Linked DNA regions of Homo sapiens. The protein of the gene in region 3 interacts with the protein of the main gene of each other region in a pairwise test. Each region holds a gene or a part of one and is shown on either strand. Other genes may lie near its edges. The genes, in order: PLEKHA4, TOMM34, PRKAA1, KIF16B, MORC4 and RAD54B.

Region 1 (3,500 bases), on a different chromosome or scaffold from region 3:
CACCGCCCAGCCCCAGCCCTCCTCCCCTCACCCTTTGCTCCACGTCAGGCTGGCGTCTGGCTGGGGACAGTGTCCTTCCCAGGGTGAGAAGCCGGGGGGAGGTCGGGCGAGGGAAGGGCCGTCCACATTCCTGGTTTCTGCGCATCCGCTCCAGCTGCTCCTGGGCACTCATCCGGGGCCGGGCCACCGGGGCCTAGGGAGGCGAGAAACGTCCCAAGACCCAACCTTTAGGCCAGGCACAGTGGCTCGTGTAATCCCAGCACTTTTGGGAGGCTGAGTAGAGAGGATCACTTGAGGTCAGGAGTTGAAGACCAGCCTGGCCAACTTGGCGAAATACCATCTCTACTAAAAATACAAAAATTAGCTGGGCGTGGTGGCAGGCACCTGTAATCCTAATTACTCAGGAGGCTGAGGCAGGAGAATTGTTTGAACCCCAGAGGTGGAGGTTGCAGTGAGCCGAGATCACGCCACTGCACTCCAGCTGCACAACAGAGCAAGACTCTGTCTCAAATATATATATATATATATGTTGCTTAAACAAGGAGAGAGGGAGAAGGCCGGGTGCAGTGGTGGGTGACTGTAATCCCAGAGCTTTGGGAGGCTGAGGTGGGAGGATCACTTGCGGCCAAGAGTTTGAGACCAGCCTGGGCAACATAGCAAGACCCCATCTCTACAAAAAATAAACTTGTTAGATGTGGTGGTGGATGCCTGTCAGCTACTCAAGAGGCTGAGGCAGGGGGATCACTTAAGCCCAGGAGTTCAAGGCTTCAGGGAGCTATGATCGTGCCACTGCACCTCACTCTGGGTGACAGGGCAAGATCCCGTATCTAAAAGTAAAAAGTAAAGACAGAGAGAGCACTCATTGCTGAAGCTTCCAGTTAAACATCCCAGTGAGATAGCATGGATCTGTGCTTATTGTAGAACCAGTCCCTGCAGTTTCCTCTGCTTTGACCAATCCTGAGTCCTGTTTATATAAATGATGGCCAGTGGCCACTGTATATTACCCTATGTTGTTAATTTATTTTCTTTTTTTTTTTTTTTTTTTGAGACAGAGTCTCGCTTTGTCACCTAGGCTGGAGTGCAGTGGCGCAATCTCTGCTCACTGCAACCTCCGCCTCCTGGGTTCAAGCACTTCTCTGCCTCGGCCTCTCAAGTAGCTGGGATTGAGTAGGTGGCACCCGCCACCACGCCCAGCTAATTTTTTTGTATTTTTAGTACAGACAGGGTTTCACCATCTTGGCCAGGCTGGTCTTGAACTCCTGATCTCGTGATCCACCTGCCTCGGCCTCCCAAAGTGCTGGGATTACAGGCGTGAGCCACCGCGCCCAGCCAATGTTGTTAATTTCTTCACAGCAGGCCAGACCATTGGCCTAAAAGCTTGGTAGCAGCACACTCAGATTTCTACACATCCAATTGTTTTAAACATAGTCTTAATAAGCAGGTATTTTTAGCTATGCAGTCTGCCTGCTTTGTATACCCTGAAACTGTGCCCAACATCTGCTACCCATAGATAAGATGAGCCCCAAGCCCCTGCTGCTCTTTGGACCTCTCTGATCCAGAGAAACCTCCACATGCTGGTGGCTGGCATCACCCAGAAGTAAGCCCCTTCTCCAGTCCCTTTCTCTTGGGAGCTCCCTTGCCTTCCTCCCTTCCTGTGCAGTGGTCCTCACCCTCACACAGTAACCTCTGGAGGGTCTCACACTGGGTGTGACTCCCCCATAGACAAATCTGTCAGTGTCCACCAAATAAAGCTCCTGTGTGCTACTGCCATCTGGTGGTCATAGCTTTTTCTTTGCTAAACCCTGAAATCCCTGGAACTCACTAGACCACCCCTGTGCTCTGGACCTTGGCAGCCCCTGAAACCACCCGGTTGGGGTGAGGGAGGAGCATGTCCCAAGATAAGTGATGTTCCCAGCAGGCTCCAATCATCCATGCCCATGACACACCACTGAGAATCAAAAAGTGCCTCTCCTCTCTTCCTAGGAAAGGCTCGATTGCTTTTGTATCCATGATAACAAGTAAGCACAAGAAATGCCTTCTTTTTTTTAAATTATTTTATTTTATTTTATTTTATTTTTGAGATGGAGTTTCACTCTTATTGCCCAGGCTGGAGTGCAATGGCACGATCTTGGCTCACTGCAACCTCTGCCTCCCAGGTTCAAGCGATTCTCCTGCCTCAGCCTCCCGAGTAGCTGGGATTACAGGCATGTGCCACCACGCCTGGCTAATTTTTTTGTATTTTTAGTAGAGACGGGGTTACACTATGTTGGTCAGGCTGGTTTCGAACTCCTGACCTTGTGATCCGCCTACCTTGGCCTCCCAAAGTGCTGGGATTACAGGCGTTAGCCACCGCACGCGGTCTTTTTTCTTTTTTTTTTTTAAAGACATGGTTTCCCTCTGTTGCCCAGGATGGAGTGCAGTGGTGCAATCATGGCTCAGTGCAGGCTTGACCTCCTGGACTCAAGCAATCCTCACGTCTCAACCTCCCAAGCAGCTGGGACCACAGGTGGGCACCACCACGCACAGCTAACTTTTTATTTTTTATTTTTTTATTTTTTGAGATGGAGTCTTGCTCTGTCACCCAGGCTGGAGTGCAGTGGCGCAGTATCAGCTCACTGCAATCTCAGCCACCCAGGTTCAAGCGATTCTCCTGTCTCAGCCTCCTAAGTAGCTGGGATTACAGGTGCGTGCTGCTACACCCGGCTAATTTTTGTATTTTTAGTAGAGATGGGTTTTTGCCACGTTGGCCAGGGTGCTCTTGAACTCCTGACCTCAGGTGATCCACCCGCCTCGGCATCCCAAAGTGCTGGGATTACAGGTGTGAGCCACTGCACCTGGCCACAGCTAACTTTTTATTATTTTTTTGTAGAGATGGGTCTTGCTACGTTAGCCAGGCTGCTCTTGAACGCCTGGACTCAACTGATCCACCTACCTTGGCCTCTCAAAGTGTTGGGATTACAGGCATGAGCCAATACCACTGGCCAAGAAATGCCTTATTTATTTTATTATTATTATTATTATTATTATTATTATTATTATTATTATTATTATTTTCGAGACAGAGTCTCGCTCTGTTGCCCAGGCTGGAGTGCAACGGTGCAATCTTGGGTCTTTGCCACCTCTGCCTCCTGGGTTCAAGCGATTCTCCTGCCTCAGCCTCCCAAGTAGCTGGGATTACAGGCACCCGCCATCACGCTCGGATAATTTTTGTATTTTTGTAGAGACAGGGTTTTCACCATGTTGGTCAATCTGGTCTCAAACTCCTGACCTCAAGTGATCTGCCTGCCTCGGCCTCCCAAAGTGCTGGGATTACAGGTACGAGCCACGGTTCCCAGCCCCAAGAAGTGCTTTTAAATCTATTTGATCAAGTAATCCCAACAGGTACCCCAAAGACTTCTGAAAGCCAGCCAATCAGTGATGGAGCCAAGCTTCTGAAAATCAGCCAATCAGTGATGGTCACATGCTTCTGAGGGCTGGCCAATCAGTGATGGATCCGTACT
Region 2 (3,950 bases), on a different chromosome or scaffold from region 3:
TTATCTCAGAATCCACCACTAGATTTAGCACGTTATATTAGTTCCCAACTTTTTTAATTTTTAGAGACAGCGTCTCCCTCTGTTGCCCAGGCTGAAGTGTAGTAGCACAATCATAGCTCACTGCAGCCTCAAACTCTTGGGCTCAAGTGATCTTCCCAGCTCAGCCTACCAAGCAGATAGGACTACAGGTGTGTACCCCCAAGCCCAGTTAATTTTTAAAGTTTTTGTAGAGACAGAGTCCCACTGTGTTGCCCAGGTTGGTCTTGAATGCCTAGCCTCAAGTGATCCTCCCGCTTTGGCCTCCCAAAGTGTTGGGATTATAGGCATGAGCTATGGCACCCAACCCTTAAAAATTTTTTTGATAAGCTAAAACTCCAGCCATCCCCATCCTTATCCCTGTGCTCCCTCCCCAGACTCACAGAGGCCAGTACAATCCTGAAGTTGGTATGTAACATTTTCAAGCATGTTCTACATTTACATATATATGTATATATGTATATGTATATATGTATACATGTACATGTATATATATGTATATGTATATATATGTGTGTGTGTGTGTGTGTGTTAACAGGAAAGATACCATTTTATGTCTATTAAAGCATTTCCTAAGAGGCATCATATTGCCTATCCTTCTGCAACTTACTTTTTTCACTCAGTATCCTGTTGCCATGTTGATATTTGATATCTTTCATTCAATACCAACAATAACAAGCGTTTTCCCCTCTTGTTTTGCCAGGCCCAGAGACGGAAAGTACAAAGACTAGTAAAATACATCCTTGCCCTTAAGGAGCTAAGTACCCAAAACCTGTAATCCATCTTGAGTCACCAGAGTACGGTTGCTCAGAAACAGCAGTGGTGCGGTGGAAAGGGCATCAACCCTGCGATCCGGACAAGTCACTCCATCCCTCTGATCATGCGTGCCCACCTACCACATGAGGATATCACTTCATAGACTTGCTGGAAGGGTTCATTGTGTTAGCCTGTTCCCTGAGCTCTCTTCGTGATCAAGAAGACTGATCAGATAAATCAAGAGACTTGCCCAAAATTACCTAGGAAATCTGTAGCAGCAGCAGAACCAAACTCCGGTCCTTGCTAAATCTAGATACCAGGCTAGCTTTTCTATGGACCCAGAATTAACCCATACAAATGTACAAGCTTTTCCAGACCAGCTGGGGTGAGATGAATGAAAATGGCAGCAACATCAATACCTCAGCTTCTTCAGCAACTTCATCAAGTAAGGCTGCCATGAGGAAGTGGGCCTAAAGGAGAGTTTTCTAGAACAAAGAAGGGGGCAAAGGAGTGGCTTGAAACTGCAAAAAGTGCAGACAAAAAAAAAAAAAAAAAGAATGAAATCTGGAGAGGATGTGAGGAGAGGTCTAGCAAAATGATTAAAAATTTGGACTTAGCATCAAAGTCAAACAGATCCATATTCAAATCGTGGCTCTTCCATGTCTTCACTATGTAACCCCGAGGGAGCCAATTTAACTCTCTTGGACTCCTCCTTTCTAAGCATTTTATCCACAGGGCCATAATAAAGATCAAAGGAGATCGTGTCTAAAATGTCTAGCACATGGTAAATCACTCAAGAGATGCTAGCCAAGAAAAGGAAAAAAAGGAAGGCGGCAAAGGGAAATAGGTACTGAACGGTGACTCACAGAAACCAGGATCCAAGGCTCCTTTCAAAAGTCAAGGCTTTAACCAATGAGGGTTTCTGATTAAGTCACCCTGGAGAAGGGGCTTTGGGCAAAGGTCTGCGGTATGCTGACGAAAGCTGGACGCTGGGAGAACTGGTAAGAATATGCTATTCTTCTGTTTCAAACTCTCCAGTAGCTTCCCATCCAGCAGCTTTCATGCCAAGCTTCCAGTTTGGCATGAAATCCGAACTCCTTAGCAGAGTTTACAACACCTCCACAATAAATAAGGGTCTGCCTTCCTAACTGACCTCATGTCTTCCTATTCCCTGCCCTGGCTCACTATGCTTTGACCCCTGAAACACACCATGTTTATATCGTCTTGGAGGGGGGGCCTTTCTCATTGCAGTTCACTTCAGGACCGAAAACCTTGTGCGCTTGGCTTCTCATCATTTAGACATCACCTCAAATATCACTTCTTTACAGATGTTGCCCTTGATCTCCCACTCCAGTCAACTCTATCACATCACCCTATTTGTCTTCTTCCTAACCCTGATTATCCCACAGGTCTCGTTTACTTACTGACTCGCTTAAGACTCACGTCCTCCCCACCGCCCCCACAAGAATGCGCTGTCCTTGAGAGAAGGGACTTTTTGTGTCTTGTTACACAGGCGGTATATAACAGCTACTCAACAAATACTAACTGAAAAATGAATTGCTGCGGGGGAGGAGGGTTTAGCTTTCTTCTCAGGGCTCAGAACGAGGCCTAAATAACTTAGGATGGGGGCCAACAGGGCAGTTAACAAGCAGGTGGAAAGAAAGGGCCGAGGAAGTTTCTGGTAGGATGCCGGAGTCGGAAGGGGCTGGAAGGGTGGGAGGGCCGGGCAGGACTGCTGGCCGCCGCGCGAGGCCCGGGCGGTGGTTGCGGGAGTTGGAGGAGCAGGCCCGGAGGTGAGATGGGGGCCGGGGTCGTACCTTGCGCCTGCAGCACCCGCAGCGCGCGGCCGTAGAGCGCGGAGGCCTCGGCGTACTGGCCGTTGCGGAAACTCTCATTGCCGGCGGCGCGGAGCTCCTCCACAGAGTCTGGGAATTTGGGGGCCATCCCGTGGCCAGGCCGGCGAGTTGGGAGCTCCTTCCTTCCTCCCCCGTGTGGTGCGGCACACCTTCCGGGCGCAAGCGCCGGCGGCGAATATCTCCGCCCAACAGCGAACCCGCGGCGAGGGGGCGGGGCCTGCGAGACCTGGAGGCCCGGAGCGTCCCGCCCTCTGCGCGTGCTCGGTTTGGAACTTAGGCTCCCTTGCACGCGGGGCGGCAGCATGCTCTGGGCTCCCTGAGTTGCTAGAACGCCGTGGATGACGCAGGGAAGGAGGCTGGCCCCGCTATCAGGGAGATTATGTCCTAGTGGGGTCCCCACAGGCAATTAACTGATAAGCAAACGAAGACTCTCATTTCATGTGATTAGTGCTGTAAGGAAAACAAAACAGGATAATGCAATGGAAAGTGACCACGTGTGGGCTATTTTAAATAAGGGGATGAAGGAAGGCCTTTCTCAGGGGGTAATAGTTGAGCTGAGACCAGACAAGATTTAGGGAATGCTGTTCCAGCCAGAGGGATGGTAAGTGCAAAGGTTCCAAGGCTAGAAAGTACCTGGTACCTAGTGCTCTATAGATATTTATTTAATAAATTAATGCACAGGTGGATTGATGGTGTCAAAGTCAACATATAGAGATGAATCTCTAAAGTTTAAATATTTTATTTGGCAATCAAGAATTGCAATTCAGGGCTTACACACAGACCAGGTTGTCTTTGGTATGTCAGAAGAACAAAGAGAAGGTTTGGAGATTTTTATAAAACAGAAATGTTACATATTGCTCTTCAAGGAAGTTTACAGGCACTAGTAAAGTGGGGGTTTATCAGCTTCTTGGGGAGCTGGCAAGCTTTGATTGGTAAGTGATAGTGGTGGATAAAACTCAGAATTGTAGCAGGCTGTTTCAGTAGCTATTAGATAAAACTGGTTTTAGGTTACAGCAGGCAGTTTTAGCAGCCAGGCTTGCAAAAAATTACTTTTTTGGAGCAATGTTATATGCCCTGAGTATTTGTTCCCCTGGCTTTTCAATTCTGTCTTAGTTGGATATGACAAGAATGACCCAATTCGTATGATCAGCTTTCAGAATGGATGAAGATCTTTCACAGAGTGTGACTTCAATTTATCTCCAGCCTCATCTGACGACTCTATGTCCCACGCATTGCTATCTACACACACTAAATTCTTGCTTCCTAGCCTTTGCTTGTTATCTCCTTCTCCTGGATTTTTTT
Region 3 (3,500 bases):
AAAATTAACAATTTTTAAAAGGTCCTATTTAATTGGTTCCTCCTTTTCTTCCCCCCTCCCCACAACAGCGTATATAGCGCCATTACTTAATTCCATATACAAATTTGTAACTTTAAAAATACAGTCTTCTGTTAACATCAGGAACATTATGCTGCACTTAGAGACCCTAAGTAAAATTAGAATCCCCTAAAGAGAGGGCCACATAAAAAGTAAATACAGTTTTGAACTCATATTTAAATGGAACTTCTATTACTTTGTACAGCTTTCAAATTAGAAGTTGAATAGAACAAGCCCTGGACAAAAAGCAGCAAGATTTTTCTTTTGAATTCAGTGCATGATTCTAGAAGTGCTTGAGTCAAATCTACTAGAGTCACCATTTATGCAAGCTATCATGACATTTGAGTTCATTATCATCTGGTTACATAAGTGCTCACTGTATTTGCCAAAAATAATCCTAAAATATGATTCTTAAAATAGAAAAAATATAGCTCTGTTGCAATGGGAAAATGATTAATACAAAAAAATCAATTTCTTAAAGTTAACATAAGGCAAATATAAATGATACAATATTATCATACACGATACCAATTTTATCTGAGGTGACTACATCTTCATTTACATCTATTGTGTGATGCAATTAAGAATGACAAAAAAAAATATCAGTGTAAATCAGAAATCTTAGGAAAATCCAGTATCTTTAAAAAGTAATTTAAGCCCAAAACAAATGTGACCACTTATTAATAGAATTGATTTGTTCCATATTTTATCAAAATAATAATAATGTTATATCCAACTAAAGAGTTATAACCAAGTGTCATATGTAAACTTTAATTGGATCCTAGTTTGAAATAATCAGCTATAAAGAAATTTGGAGTTAACTTCAGAAATTTAAATATGGCTTGATTAGATGATATTGGGGAATTATTACTTTTACAATGGTATTACGGATTTTTAGGAGAATGTCATTATCTGTAGGAGATACTTGAAGTATTTTCACGGTGATAAGTATGTCTGTAACATCCAAATGGTTCAGGGGGAAAAAAGCATATATACATACACAAACAAACACATATATGCATATATATGCATAACTAGCTGTATCTATACATATATAGGTATAGAGAAAACAAATGACAAAACATTAACAACTGCTGAATCTAAATGGTAGATATACATGTGCTTACCAAACAGTTTTTCAATTTTTCTGTTTTTAAAAATGTTCATAATAAAATTTGGGGGGGAAGTCATATCAGAGCACTTAAAGTTTGTAAGAGATAGTTTTCTATGCACTGAATCAATTTAAAAGATACATAATCAAATAAGTAGCAATGTGTGCATATACTCAATAATGACTGACATGATGGGCCAGAGGAATTTGTGAAATTGGCAAAAATAATATGATTTATCTACAGTATATGCAACTCAGCTCTTGTAACAAAAAGAACATTTTGTGTACAGAATATCGTGGGAATATTTTAAGACTAAAATTAGTGCTAGAGTATCTGAATATATAAATTCTGTGTTTTTGGACTTGTAAAGCTAAAATGAAATTTAAATTAGGTCTGATATCTGATATGACTTACCATACACTACAGAATTTTAAAAGGGGGATATGGAGGCCGGGTGCGGTGGCTCACGCCTGTAATCCCACCACTTTGGGAAGCTGAGGTGGTGGATCACGCGGTCAGGAGTTCGAGACCAGCCTGGGCAACATAGTGAAACCCCGTCTACACTAAAAATACGAAAAATTAGCCGGGTGTGGTGGCACACGCCTGTAGTTCCAGCTACTCAGGAAGCTGAGGCGGGAGAATCACTTGAACCCGGGAGGTGGAGGTTGCAGTGAGCCGAGACCACACCATTGCACTCCAGCCTGGGTGACAAAGTGACACTGTCTCAAAAAAACAAAGAGGGAGGGATATGGAAGAAGTTATCCAGACTGTTACTACTGCTGGAAGATACTAGCTATTTATGAAGTTAAGGAGCCCAGAAAACAAAATCACCTATAAAGGTCTTGGGAATTCTAGGCAAATATTTATTGAATAAATTTATAACACGTAATATATAACACGTAATAATATATGAAGGCCTTTATGTAAATTAATATTTCAAAGCCCTGTGTACACTAAATATAAAATAGCCAAAAATCAAGTAAGCCTGAGACCTATAATTCACTGTGTATATTATGCTATATACATACTGCACAATGAACAACAAAATGATCTTAATTCATTTCTGCATATTAGGCTTTTAACTATAAATCATGTTCCAATCCCTGTGCAAATTGCATTCCAAAACGCCAGCCCTCGGTTATAATTATGTATAACTTGATTACAAATGGAAGCATTTGGCTGTGACTTATTATGCATGCTTATTGCTGCAAAAGAAATAAGCAAAGTTTTCTGTTTATTGTGCAAGAATTTTAATTAGATTTGCACACATCTCAAAAAATTCTATTGTGTGACTTCCAGGTCTTGGAGTTAGGTCAACAGGAGAAGAGTCAAGTGAGGTCACAGATGAGGTAAGAGAAACTTCTGAGGATTTTCCTTGAGCCTCAGCATCTGAATCACTCCTTTGGCAAGATCGATAGTTGCTAACTGATCCCGATCTCTGTGGAGTAGCAGTCCCTGATTTGGCTTCTGTAATTTCATCTGGGTAAAAAGAATTTCAATTTATTATAGTCTATGACCTTCTCCCAAAAATTTTTGTAACAGTATTGAATTTGCTTCTTTAAGTGGGGCTGCTGGCCAGCTATCAAGAGCACGCTTATTCTAAATACCTTCTAAAACAGTCAATGAGCCTGTATTAAACTATTCATCTTTTTTACATATAGTATGTATTCTCAAGATAGCTAACCAAAGTTGGGTACAGTATAGCTACTCATCAGTTGCAATCCAAGGTTAAGAGCCCAGTAAACCAACAATCTAGGGATTAATAAATATTATTCTATAGCAATAAAAAGTAATCCCTCTATATTAAAATCATAGAATCGATGCACTTAAAATTTGGAGGGTATACTGGAAACCATCTCATCCAGCCCCTCACTTTATTGATAAGAAAACAAACCCAGAGAAATGACTTGCCCAAGGTAACAAATGAACAGAAAGGTAAGTCTAGAACCCAACTCTCCTAAGTCTCAGCTCAGTGCTTTTTACTTTCCACTTTCCCTTCATATTTCATTTAGTATTTCATAAAAGAGCAACAATTCCAATGAATAAAAATCGAAGAAAAACTAAGGTTGGGAACACAGTACAAAAACAAAATGGGCATTCAATTGGTATACCCCAGTACTAGTAAATCTAAGGTTGCAAATTTGATCCAAATACAAGAAAAATAAAACTCATTCCGTATTTCAGACTGCATTAGTATATGTTAGCAGATACGTACTATATGGACCTAAAGATAACCAGACAAACTGGTTTGGCCAACATATCATGGCTCAAACCTGTGTCTTTCTGCTACTATGTGTGTACTATCTTTGAGTTTATAAAGAAGAAAAAAAT
Region 4 (4,245 bases), on a different chromosome or scaffold from region 3:
CCACCCGTTGGTCAAATTCGCACCCAGCTCTGCTCCAGACAGAGGGAAAACCCAGTGATTTCCGGGCTCTAGAAACAAAGGGAGGCTATGATTCCCTGCTGGCCCTAGGGGTCCAGGGAAGGTTATGGAAAGATAATTCTTTGTGTAAGCGGGTTGCGTACTTGCAGACATCATCCCACTTGATGCATTCACCACTCTATGCCGTTGTTCCTGATTTGCAGATGAGACAAGAAGCCTCAGAGGCGCCCAGTAATTCAGAATTACAGGCTGACAAGGCTAGTGTTGGAGCTAGGACTTAAAAACAGGAGTTCCGCCTCCATTCCTTGCGTCTCCCATTATAGCTTGGCTTCCTGGAATGGCTGCTCCTGTGGCTCGCAGGTGGGCTTCTGGGTGTGCGCAAACGATTTCATGCATGCTCGATTCACTGAATGAATGAATGCATTTACCTTCTACACAGGAAGGGAGGTGGAGCTCACTTCTACCAGAGGCCCTAAGCCTTAAGATACCAGTTGTCGGCCTGGCGCGGTGGCTCACGCCTGTAATCCCAGCATTCTGGGAGGCCAAGGCGGGCGGATCATTTGAGGTCAGGAGTTCGAGACCAACCTGGCCAACATGGTGAAACCCCGTCTCTACTAAAAATACAAAAATCAGCCGGGCGTGGTGGCACGCCCAGCTATTCGGGAGGCTGAGGCAGGAGAATCTCTTGAACCCGGGAGGCGGACGTTGCAGTGAGCCGAGATCGCAGCATTACACTCCAGCCTGGGTGACCGAGCGAGACCCTGTCTCAAAAAAAAAAAAAAAAAAAAAAAAATACCAGTTGTGTTCGCCTTTAACTCCCTTATGATTAAAACTAAAAATTACTAAAGTGTACAAAAGTGCAAAACAAGTCTAAATAAGGTTTGATTCTAGCCAATATAATGACATTCCCGCACACATTTAAAACATCCAACACCCTATTAATTTTCGTTTATCGGTATCCCGAGTTAAGGGGTCCAAAACATACGGTCGGACCTCCTTAGGGTAGCAGAGAAGGCCCTAGCGGAGTTTGCCACCAACAAGCTGTGATCATCTCTGCGCCTCAGTTTGTTCGTGTGTAAAATGGATACGTTAACTCATGTTTGGCTGGGTGAAGCCAGGTTCTTGTTAAGGGCTGAAAAACTGGCTTTGGTCACCTGACCCCAGGACTGTGATCCTTGCCGCTGGCTTTAAATTGCTGCGATCCTCTTCTCTCCAGTTGTTCAGGCCATGAGGGTGGGTTCTAGTTTTCCTGAAACCATCCGCTCCGGGTCGCCCCCATAACCTCTGCGCCAAGGTCCACAACGTGGCCTTTCCAGACTTGCAGATCCCGGAGGCTGCTTCCAGGCCCCGCGGCCCCGCCCCTCTGCACCGCCCGGCCGCCGCCAAACCGTGGCGCATGGATCACGCGGGCCGGAGCCGTTCTGGGCATGCTCAGTGGCCTGGCAGGTGGGGCTGCCGCGGAACTCCAGGTCCGGCCGGGAGCAGAGGGGCGGGGGCGAGAGGGAAGTGGGCGGGAGCCGCGATCTGAGTAGCCAGCGTCGCCGGCGACCGCGGAGTTCTGGGCTAGTGGGACCCCGCGCGGGCTGGTTCGGGATGAGCGATGGCATCGGTCAAGGTGGCCGTGAGGGTCCGGCCCATGAATCGCAGGTGAGTGGGGCCGCCCGCGCCCCGCCCCCTCGTCGCGCCCCCACCCAGAGGAAGCCTGTTTCCAGCTCCCCCAAAGCCAGCCTGGACTTAAAAGTGTCACCGGCTGGTCCCTGGCCCACCGGGCCCAGGCTGTGGCCTCTGGGGGCCTGGAGGACTTCGTGCACTGCTGTCCCGTTCACATTGCCCTGGAGAGGACCCTGGTGGTAAAGGAGAAGATTCTATTAACTCTCTCCATCGTATTAACTTGAGATGTTCTTGTTCCCCCTTTAAAAAAGCATCAAGGGAACGTTACCATGAAGATGTAAAATAGTTGGGGGGAAGGTGAGAGTGCTGAGGGGGGGCACCACGAACTGTCAGGTGAACCCCTCATTTCTACCAACTCAGAAGTTCTCTTAACAATTAACCATGCTACTTTTTAATCTTTCAGTTAGAGATGATTTTGATTCCCTGAATGTCTAATCGATAACTTAGCAGTTCCTAACTTCATGTTAGAGAGTGGATGGGAAAACTTTGACAAAGTCCTGACTCCTAGAAAAAAGTCAGGGACGCTTTACACGTGTTTGAAATACTCTGATATTAAGAGAGAGGAAGAGTGTTACACACAAAATTTAATCTTGTTATATATTTCTACGAAGTAATGCTTTTTCAGAATCCTTCTCTTCATTCACTGAAAAATAGCCTGTGCTCCCTTTTCAATGACCTCTTTTTAATCCGTTTAGAAAGTTTCTTTGGAAAAGTTACTTTTTAAATTGGTTTGACTTCAAAGAATGAGGTAGAAATGGGATGTGTCCTCCAAGGTGACAGGCAAGGTTCACACAGAGCCATTTGATTTTATTGACTTCTCTACCAAGTTGGTGGATATTTGACTTACCATAGGGCCTTTTTGCTTTTGTCATATCAACTTGTGGAGGTTAATGTTTGGTAGTTCTGATGCCTGATTGGGGCAGCCGAAGGCCATAAAATCAAAAGATTTCCAGAACCTTATTTGACTCATCTAAATCTGTTTCTTCTCTTGGCAAGTAGGGAATCATTATTTTGGTTTGTAATCATTAAAACCCAGTGTTTTCAGAATCTGCTTTTTGTGACTTTTGAGTTATTTCTAAAGCTGTTTAGAGTAAGAGTTTGACTTTTTTGCTCTAAGGGAATATTTTTGTTTCTGTGTACATTCCATCATAGAAGATAAACTTTAGAACGATTTTTCTTTATTATGGATTTTCATGTGTATAGAAGTTCTTTTTCTTTTTTGGAAAAAGGTGAACACATGCTAGAAAATTGTATTGTGTAACTTTAGAAAGTATTTGTTAGGCTGGGCGCGGTGGCTCATGCCTGGGAGCCACTTTGGGAGGCCGAGGCGGGCGGATCACAAGGTCAAGAGATGGAGACCATCCTGGCTAACACGGTGAAACCCCTTCTCTACTAAAACTACAAAAAATTAGCCGGGCGTGGTGGTGGACGCCTGTAGTCCCAGCTACTCGTGAGGTTGAGGCAGGAGAATGGTGTGAACCCAGGAGGCAGAGCTGGCAGTGAGCCGACACCGTGCCTCTGCACTCCAGCATCAGTGACAGAGCGAGACTCCCTCTCAAAAAAAAAAAAAAAAGTATTTGTTAAGCACCTACCAAACACATAGCATTCCTCAGGGTGCTGTCTGGGATACAAGGGGAATGAGACCTGGTGAGCCATGGTGAGAGAGGGATTATGTACTGGCATGAATCTTGTGAAGTATTGGGCCTGCTGGGACAGGAACTGTGAGTTCAGTGCCTTGCCAGTGTAGGCCTGGAGCCCAGGTACATGGAGGGATGGCAGGAAATAAGTCCAGAGGCCATGGGCTTTGGGGAGGCAGATTCGCGTGATGTTATTTATATTCTCAGTAGAGAACTCTGGTGGTGTCAAGATTGAGGTAAGAGGCAGGTGATTAGCAGTTTGAGCCAGAGATGAAATTGGAAGGCAGGATAGTTACAGGAAGACCACTCACTGGCAGAATTGGCAGGATTTGGCAGCTCACTGGATGGGAAGAAGGGGGAAGAATGCGAGTGTAGAGTCATTAACTGAGGTTTGATGCTGAAGGAGGTGAACAGGTTTGAGGAAGGTGGACAATGAAGTTGGTATGTTCTCTCTTGGATGTGGAGAGTTACATGAGATGTATTAAGTGTCAAGTACAAGCACAGAGCAAGTGTTTCACGCATGTTGACCTTGTTCATTATCTGAAGTGTGGGAAGGACATCCATCCCTCTGCTAGAGATGTTCAGCAGAAAGCTGAAAATGTGGGTTTAGGTCTCAGGTGATTTGAGGATCGACATTTGGAAATCTTTTGCACATAAACCACAATTTAAGGATGTTACGTGAGAAGAAAAGGGAGCCAGGGATTGGACATTGGGATATGCCCCTCTTTAGGATTTCAGGGAGAAGATTGGCTTGCAGTCCGTAAAGGAGAACCAGCACAGCAAATGGTCATGGCAGGAAAGGGAGAAGAGCATCCTGAAGGAGGTGGTGGGGGTTAGTGTCAAATATTGCCAGGATGATGAGAATAAGATGGTGTCCTTGGTCTTGAAGACAAGGCTAGTTGATAACCTTCCCAACAGT
Region 5 (3,500 bases), on a different chromosome or scaffold from region 3:
AAAAATTTTTGGAACAAATTTCAAACTGCTTTTTTTTATCCAATGTATTCCATAACTTCAGATCCATTCATCTGTTTCCATTAAGATCAATTCCAAAGCTTTTCATTTCCCCAGAAATCTTTTACCAAATTACTCCTATGCTCTTTGCATAATTTCTAAAGGTAAGGTTTATCTCAACGAGACTCCATATATCATTCAGCAAACTTTAATTTAAAAATGAAAGCATTTTATCTCTAATCTTGGAAAACAAATTTGAAGTAATTCTCAGTTAACTTATTTAGCTGCTTTTTAGAGATGGTTTTAGAGGCTTTAGAGAACAGAATCATATCTGAACAAACTAACGGAAGCACCTCAGGTTGGGAGTGACTCACCGGTACTCCTTGGTATACTCAAAGTCTTGTTTGTTGTAGGCAGGTTTTAGGAAATTGCACTCAATGACTCCAATTACTCCTACACCTTCTCCACGAGTTGGCTTAGAAGAAAATATTAATTTCAACACTTACATTACTGTTGGCTGCCTGGAGGCATTTCCTTTTGATTCCAAACAATAATAGAAAGGTTACATAACCTTCATGGGCAAGAAAAGACCATCAAGATCTAGAGAAACACTTAGAATGTACATCAACAGACTGCAAGCATTAAACTGAACTAGAAATTCTGACAAATTCTAGGGCAGAGATTTTCAAAATATGATCCATAGATCCCTAGGAGTCTTCTGCAATTAGTAGCCATCTCTACTTCACCCACACTACCTCCACTTTTATCTGCTTTATATTCCAGGACTGCCATAAGACTGCATTTGAATAAAGAATTACCGTGCTAAAAAACCAAGGTTATATACTACTGTTCTAAGGAACTGAAACAAATATTCATCTGAAAACAATTTTAAGGGTTCTGTGTGATCCTATATTAAAATAAACAATTTTCCCACATACATAGGCCACCAAACAACTACTAAAGAGTCACACTTACAGCAATTATTAATTACAAGTTGACGCAAGAGTTTTATAGATTTAAATCATATTCTAATTCTTTAATGGAAGAAACTAAGTAAAGGTGTAATTGGACTGGAACACAAACACGAGTTGTCTAAAGGTGCTATAACAAGGGAAAACAAAATAGGCTGAAAACGAGCTATCCTGGGCTTTATATAACTGTCTTACTATGTTGAAGCAGTTCATCATTTTTTGTGCTTTAGCAATCTTATCTGTAAAATAGGAATAAAAGGGATACTTGTAGACATTACTACTTTAAATAATCATTAAGACATTAAAGATGATGGTAAAATTTGTATAGAGTGGTTTAAAAAATATTTTCACATAATTTATCCCATTTAAATCTCTCAACCCTGTAAGCTGTGAGGCAGGCAAAGCAGGTATGCTTATTATTGTTGTTTCCACTTTACATAAAGGTCAGGAAATTGAGCTTCAGATAAATTAAACAATTTATCCAAGGTTACACAGCTTGTAAATGGAAAATTCAGGACCCAAATCCTGGTCTTCAACCACCATATTTTATATGCCTTCCACTATGCCTTATTGTCTCTCCAAGAAAATGGAGTTACCTAAAACACAAATAAGCTGACACACATGGTAAGCTTGCTGGTATTCTAATTCTGCCTCTTATTGACAGCTACTTAGAAAATGCATTCAGTAAAGTTGTTGGGTTGATTAACAGCTGAAGAATGAGAGTTAGAAAGAGATTTCAACACAAGACAGCTCACTGGTAACACAATTCCAGGATCAGAATTCAATAAGCATCATAAGATGGGAGTAAAAGCCATTAATGAGCCTATCCCCTTTGCAAATTTTAAATTCTCTTCCTACTCTTTTCAGCCTCCTATGACAAAGAAATATTAACTACTCACCTTCACCTGGCACCCCACCTTCTCAAAAGATTTTATGAGTCGGTTGTTATGATACATCATTATTCCAAACTGGTTACTATTCTTGCAAGAGAACCCAAAGGTGATTCTCACCTGCTTATTCTGAGAAGAACATCGTTAAGGAGACAAACATACCAGGGGCTTCAACGACAAAATTTTACACCATATTATAGCAAAAACCATCAAATACCAAGGGACATAAATTGGTACAACCTTTTTGCGGGCATTTAAACATCTGTTGCAATAGCTTTAAGAATATTCTTAATATTTGACCAAGTAATTCTCTTTTTAAGAATTTATCCCACAGAAACAGTCAGGGAGGCCCACAAACGTTAAGGAATTACAGAGGTTTTTCAATTTGTTATAAAAGCAGAGAAACAGAAATAATTTAAATGTTCAACAATAAAGAAATGATTAAATAAATGTTGATATAGCCATATGCATCTCTTTTAAAATTATGTCCTTGAAATATTTGAGAATATCAGGAAACGCTCAGATTATAAAAACATCACACACACACACGCACACACACACACACACACACATGCATAGAAAGACTGTAAGAAAAGATACCTAAATACCATCAGTGATTTAAAAATTGACAAATAATCATAAAACATTTCTTAGCCCTTGCTAGTTGCTCAGTTTGCTGCTAGGGCACATAGGTTCTGATAAGAGCTGTAAATGGTCCAATACAAATCTGTACAATTATATCCAATAAGGTAAATCCTTCTTACCATACCAAACACAATGAAAGCAAAAGCAAAGGTAAAGAACAATGAATAGTCCTGTAGTGATATATTTCATGGGAAGAAGTTAACAAGCTTGGATAAATGAAATGAAGACAACTGATTATTATAAGTAAAACATGAATAATGATGAGTTTTTAACAAGTCCTACTTAATTTAAAAACCAAGGTAAGTAAGTGAGAAAGATAAAGGGGAGATAGAGAAACTGAGATTTTCATTAAAACAAATACTAAGAAACCTTCATGTCTAAATGAGTTGAATGAAAATTTACTTTTGTTACTTATTCAAAAAATGATCTCCATGCCCCCTCTAAAAGACAAGCTACTTGCATCAAAACCCTATAACAAATGGGTCACATATGATACAAAGACATGACTCAAGTGGGTGCATAACACAGTAATGTTTGGCTCAGAATATATAATGTTCTGGGCTCTAGCAGTTCATATAAAACCTCAAATAAGACCTATTCTAACGCAAAAACAAAACAAGACAAAACTCCTGCAAGCAAACAAACCAAAATCCTATGCCATAAAATTATCTTTGTAAAGATAAAGACTGTCAAATTTTTCTTTCTGTTGTGCACTTTTAAAATTCTAAATTATGGAGTGAGGGTACAGTGGGGTAGGAGACACCAAATTAGCATAAGGAGAGAGAACAAAGATGAAAGAAGTGGCCTTTGATAATTGAGAAGTAAGTAAGTTAGTATCAATGATCTTGTTCCTCAGTGACCTTGGGGGAAATTTTATTAGGACTTTCATTTTACTCATGTCTACAGTAAATCTGTTTAGTCCAAACTATAATATCGGAAGGTAATTTGGTTTAATGGGAAGGGAGTCTGAGAAGAGTCGAGGTAACATATAGAATGC
Region 6 (3,500 bases), on a different chromosome or scaffold from region 3:
CTCTATATCACTGTAGCAAAGTAAGAGTGTGCTCCTTGTGGATTTCCAGTCAAGAAATGGCCCCGTTATTTTTCTATCTTTTAAAAAGGACAACAAGGAAAAAGAGAAGATAGAGGTGAAAAATCACATACTGCCCAAGCAAAAAGGACTATAGGATTATAAATCACCTAATAAAAGGCCCATCTTCAAGAAAGAGAAACCTAAACAGTCAAAATCATAGAACACTAGTTCAAATTTTAAGATGTTTCTTTATCTTCACAATGATGAAGACGATCATTTAATATTAACAACATGTCTGAGGCATTAAAGTCTACAACCTAATTCTATCCTTGGCTAAGATAAATACATAAGAATAATTAACCATTTACTATTTACCTGAAGTGCTTTTACACACACACACACACACACACACATATATATAAAATTCACATGTACACATATATATACATTTACATCACATACACACAACACATAAATGCCACAATAAAATGTTTCATTCACTCACTCAACAAGTATTTCCTGGAAAGAGTATATACTAGACACTCTAAATCTCTACGGTGGTTATTAGGACCCACGTTTTACACATGAGTAGGCAAAACATTAGGAAGGTTAGTGACTACCCCCAAGAGGTCAAAGAACCAGTTAGTTCAGTGGCAAAACCATGATTCTTACTCAGATCTCTGAATAAGCACAGTATTCTTTTCAGTTCCCCACAGCCCTGTATTGTGTAATAGTAAAAGTACAAAGAGAAAGGAGAATAAAGAGGAGGGGGATTGTTAAAAGAGCTGGTGGGACAGACAAAATATTTGGACAAAAAGAGAAAATTCAGCTGCATCAGCTTCCACTGCCTGTATTTCAACTAAGTCTTTGGGATAAGCTAATATAGAACTCAGAATTTTTAATTGTGGGGTTTTGTCCCAATAATGCCGTTGATTATTTGTATTTAGGTAAGTCGGTTCATCTTCCTGGGCCTCAGTTTTCTCCAATGCAAAGTGAAGAGACGAATCTAAATGATCTCAAAGGCCTCTTTACTTCAAAACTTATGTTTCCATAATACTTGCAATGGGGAAAAATAATCATTACTTTATATACTTGCTGTTGTGAGGAAAGAAGTCACCTCTATGTCTCAACTTTCACATCTACTACACTATACTTTGATTCGGATTACTTGTCCTTCCCCTCACCAAATGAGAAGCTCTGTGATGACAGTTTTATCTTTAGGCCCAACCCATAAAAGGCAATCAAGAAATACCTGCTGAGTGAACAGTCAAAAGAACAATCAGATACAATCTAGGTTTCTTTTTTTTTAATGTGATTTTTAAAATTGCATTCATCAGTGTGAAAATTAACTGATTGAATGGAACTTTCACTAGTAAAATTTGGACTTTGCATGAAATCTTACCATTCAATATTTTTACACACTAATGCTTGTGATCAAGGCATACAGTCCTCAAATTAGAAGTATAATCATAGTCCAGATTAATACATTTACTAATTTCTCTCCTTACTAAAAAGTCAGATTTTATTCAAAATTATACACATGTATGTGTAATGTATACACATACAATTTAGATATGTTTCCTTCAACACATGTACAGTATTTTTATTACTGTATTCTTAGAATTATTCATTTACATATGAAATAATTCCCAAACTATATTGTTATTTGACTTCAACATTATCTCTTATGTCAGATTATATATCTCAAGAATAATGTATACTTTCACCTAAAACTTTTAAAACAAAATTTAAACTTCAAATTCACACACAAAAAACATTTTGACAGTAAAAACAGAAAATTCAAATTATTTTTAAAATCTTACTTGGCGTATATGGGTCATGGCGTGGTTTGCAATTTTGGAAATCATTCTGTCTATTTTCCTTTGAACTTGGTTTACAAACACTTTTGAAAGGGTTAGAGAAACATTTCCTGGCAACCTGAGAAGAATGCGAGATAGCAGTACTTCCTCCTCCAAGCTGAAAACACCTGCCACTGCTGAAGTCATCTGGAGAGATTACACCCATGACTTCTATTTCTTTTCCACAAATCATCAGTGTTTGGCCCTCTTCAATCTTTTCAAGCTCTTTGAATTTATAACCAATGCCTTTAAGTTAAGAAAGAAAAAAATTAATTGACACTCTATGATACCACGGTCACCTTCCCGTAACTGTACAAAAAAACTGCACTTTGAATGTAAATAGTCTTATATAATGCATTAGCCAAAATGGAAGCATAATTTAACATTTTGGTTAAAAAAAACATTGAAAATCAAAAGAAATAATACAGCTATCAAATTAGCCATGCTTTAGAGAAAGCAAGAATTTTTTTACTATTGAAAATATAGATTATTGTACTCTATAGTTTTGCCATCTCTTGTCCGGAAAAATTAAGCCAAGAAAATAGTTTGATAGGCTATATGTATCCTCCTTTCTTGTAAATAAACTACAGAAACATCATGGTACCTCTATTTTCACTTAGAAACAGCTAGAAATGTGAAGGAGAACTAGCAATAAAAGCAACTGCTACCACAACTAGTACTGACTGTTCCACATGAGATAGCAAAGTTAAAATACAGTTGTGGCAAGAGGTCACAGATATTCCATGTTCTAACTCTTTAATAAAACATGGAATATTTTGTAATATTAAGCTTGTTTGAATTATTATTAATTTGATGAACATTTATTAAGTGTTGCTGTGTAAAGGTGCTGATGAAATATAAGTATGGATAAGTCAGTCATGGGCTGCTTAAAATGAGTTCACTAACCACATAGATGGCATTTTAGACTTCCATGCTTGTCTATTAAATGCATTAAACTATTAAATGTGTAGTTATTGTGCCATTACCAAGCAAAGGAGCTGTGTATACCAGAAACTTTTAAGTCTCTAAAAATAATAATAAAAGACTGCCACATTTTAGAAAATATGATGACCCTTTTCAAGTAGTTGAAAATTACTAAAATTTTCTCTACTGAAACTGGCCTAAAATTTATAATCTGTGCCAATCTGTATTTAATATATAGTCTTAAATTATTTATGGTGGAATACTTTTTAATTGTAATGCTCTGATATAGGAAGAAATTACTTAGCTCAATGTCAAAGACCCATCACTCCATCCCAAATCAGTATTGGTCTTCACTTATCCAAATTAATGAAGATTATAGTTTTATCTTCACATAAAATCCAATTACTGTTAATCTCAGTTTTACATGGAAATGGAAGACAAGAATAACCTTTTAACTTTGAGGTACCTTTAAAGTAGCTCTAATTCCAAGATCTCTCATTTCATTTAGATCCATAGATGATCTTGATCCAAAGGTGACTCTTTCAAACATCTCAGTCGCTAGAAGCTTTTCTTTTACTCTTAAACTTTGTTTCACATACTGGTTTTTTTTTTTTCCTAGGTATTATGCAATGATGGCCAACTGAGCCTGATGCATTATCACAAGCTATTAGCAATTTTAGCATTCCAGCTTTCAGTTTTCTTAGCACCTCTATCTTT

What was found.
Region 1: the proteins of PRKAA1 (region 3) and PLEKHA4 interact in a two-hybrid assay, tested with the Homo sapiens proteins (one large-scale study listed by BioGRID and IntAct).
Region 2: the proteins of PRKAA1 (region 3) and TOMM34 interact in a two-hybrid assay, tested with the Homo sapiens proteins (one study listed by BioGRID).
Region 4: the proteins of PRKAA1 (region 3) and KIF16B interact in a two-hybrid assay, tested with the Homo sapiens proteins (one large-scale study listed by BioGRID and IntAct).
Region 5: the proteins of PRKAA1 (region 3) and MORC4 interact in a two-hybrid assay, tested with the Homo sapiens proteins (one large-scale study listed by BioGRID and IntAct).
Region 6: the proteins of PRKAA1 (region 3) and RAD54B interact in a two-hybrid assay, tested with the Homo sapiens proteins (one large-scale study listed by BioGRID).

What each region holds. Positions count from the first base shown.
Region 1 is NC_000019.10:48,841,118-48,844,617, forward strand, and holds part of PLEKHA4 (pleckstrin homology domain-containing family A member 4), read right to left. Parts: intron 194-3,500; coding exon 32-193; intron 1-31. UniProt on the Homo sapiens protein: Binds specifically to phosphatidylinositol 3-phosphate (PtdIns3P), but not to other phosphoinositides.
Region 2 is NC_000020.11:44,957,598-44,961,547, forward strand, and holds the start of TOMM34 (mitochondrial import receptor subunit TOM34), read right to left. Parts: upstream 2,801-3,950; 5' UTR 2,737-2,800; coding exon 2,610-2,736; intron 1,941-2,609; exon of another isoform or gene 740-1,940; intron 711-739; exon of another isoform or gene 696-710; coding exon of another isoform or gene 647-695; intron 1-646. UniProt on the Homo sapiens protein: Plays a role in the import of cytosolically synthesized preproteins into mitochondria. Binds the mature portion of precursor proteins. Interacts with cellular components, and possesses weak ATPase activity.
Region 3 is NC_000005.10:40,760,375-40,763,874, forward strand, and holds part of PRKAA1 (5'-AMP-activated protein kinase catalytic subunit alpha-1), read right to left. Parts: exon of another isoform or gene 2,649-3,500; coding exon 2,404-2,648; 3' UTR 1-2,403. UniProt on the Homo sapiens protein: Catalytic subunit of AMP-activated protein kinase (AMPK), an energy sensor protein kinase that plays a key role in regulating cellular energy metabolism.
Region 4 is NC_000020.11:16,570,649-16,574,893, reverse strand, and holds the start of KIF16B (kinesin-like protein KIF16B), read left to right. Parts: upstream 1-1,445; 5' UTR 1,446-1,618; coding exon 1,619-1,665; intron 1,666-4,245. UniProt on the Homo sapiens protein: Plus end-directed microtubule-dependent motor protein involved in endosome transport and receptor recycling and degradation.
Region 5 is NC_000023.11:106,976,213-106,979,712, forward strand, and holds part of MORC4 (MORC family CW-type zinc finger protein 4), read right to left. Parts: intron 1,988-3,500; coding exon 1,868-1,987; intron 473-1,867; coding exon 372-472; intron 1-371. UniProt on the Homo sapiens protein: Histone methylation reader which binds to non-methylated (H3K4me0), monomethylated (H3K4me1), dimethylated (H3K4me2) and trimethylated (H3K4me3) 'Lys-4' on histone H3. The order of binding preference is H3K4me3 > H3K4me2 > H3K4me1 > H3K4me0.
Region 6 is NC_000008.11:94,405,616-94,409,115, forward strand, and holds part of RAD54B (DNA repair and recombination protein RAD54B), read right to left. Parts: intron 2,106-3,500; coding exon 1,824-2,105; intron 1-1,823. UniProt on the Homo sapiens protein: Involved in DNA repair and mitotic recombination. May play an active role in recombination processes in concert with other members of the RAD52 epistasis group.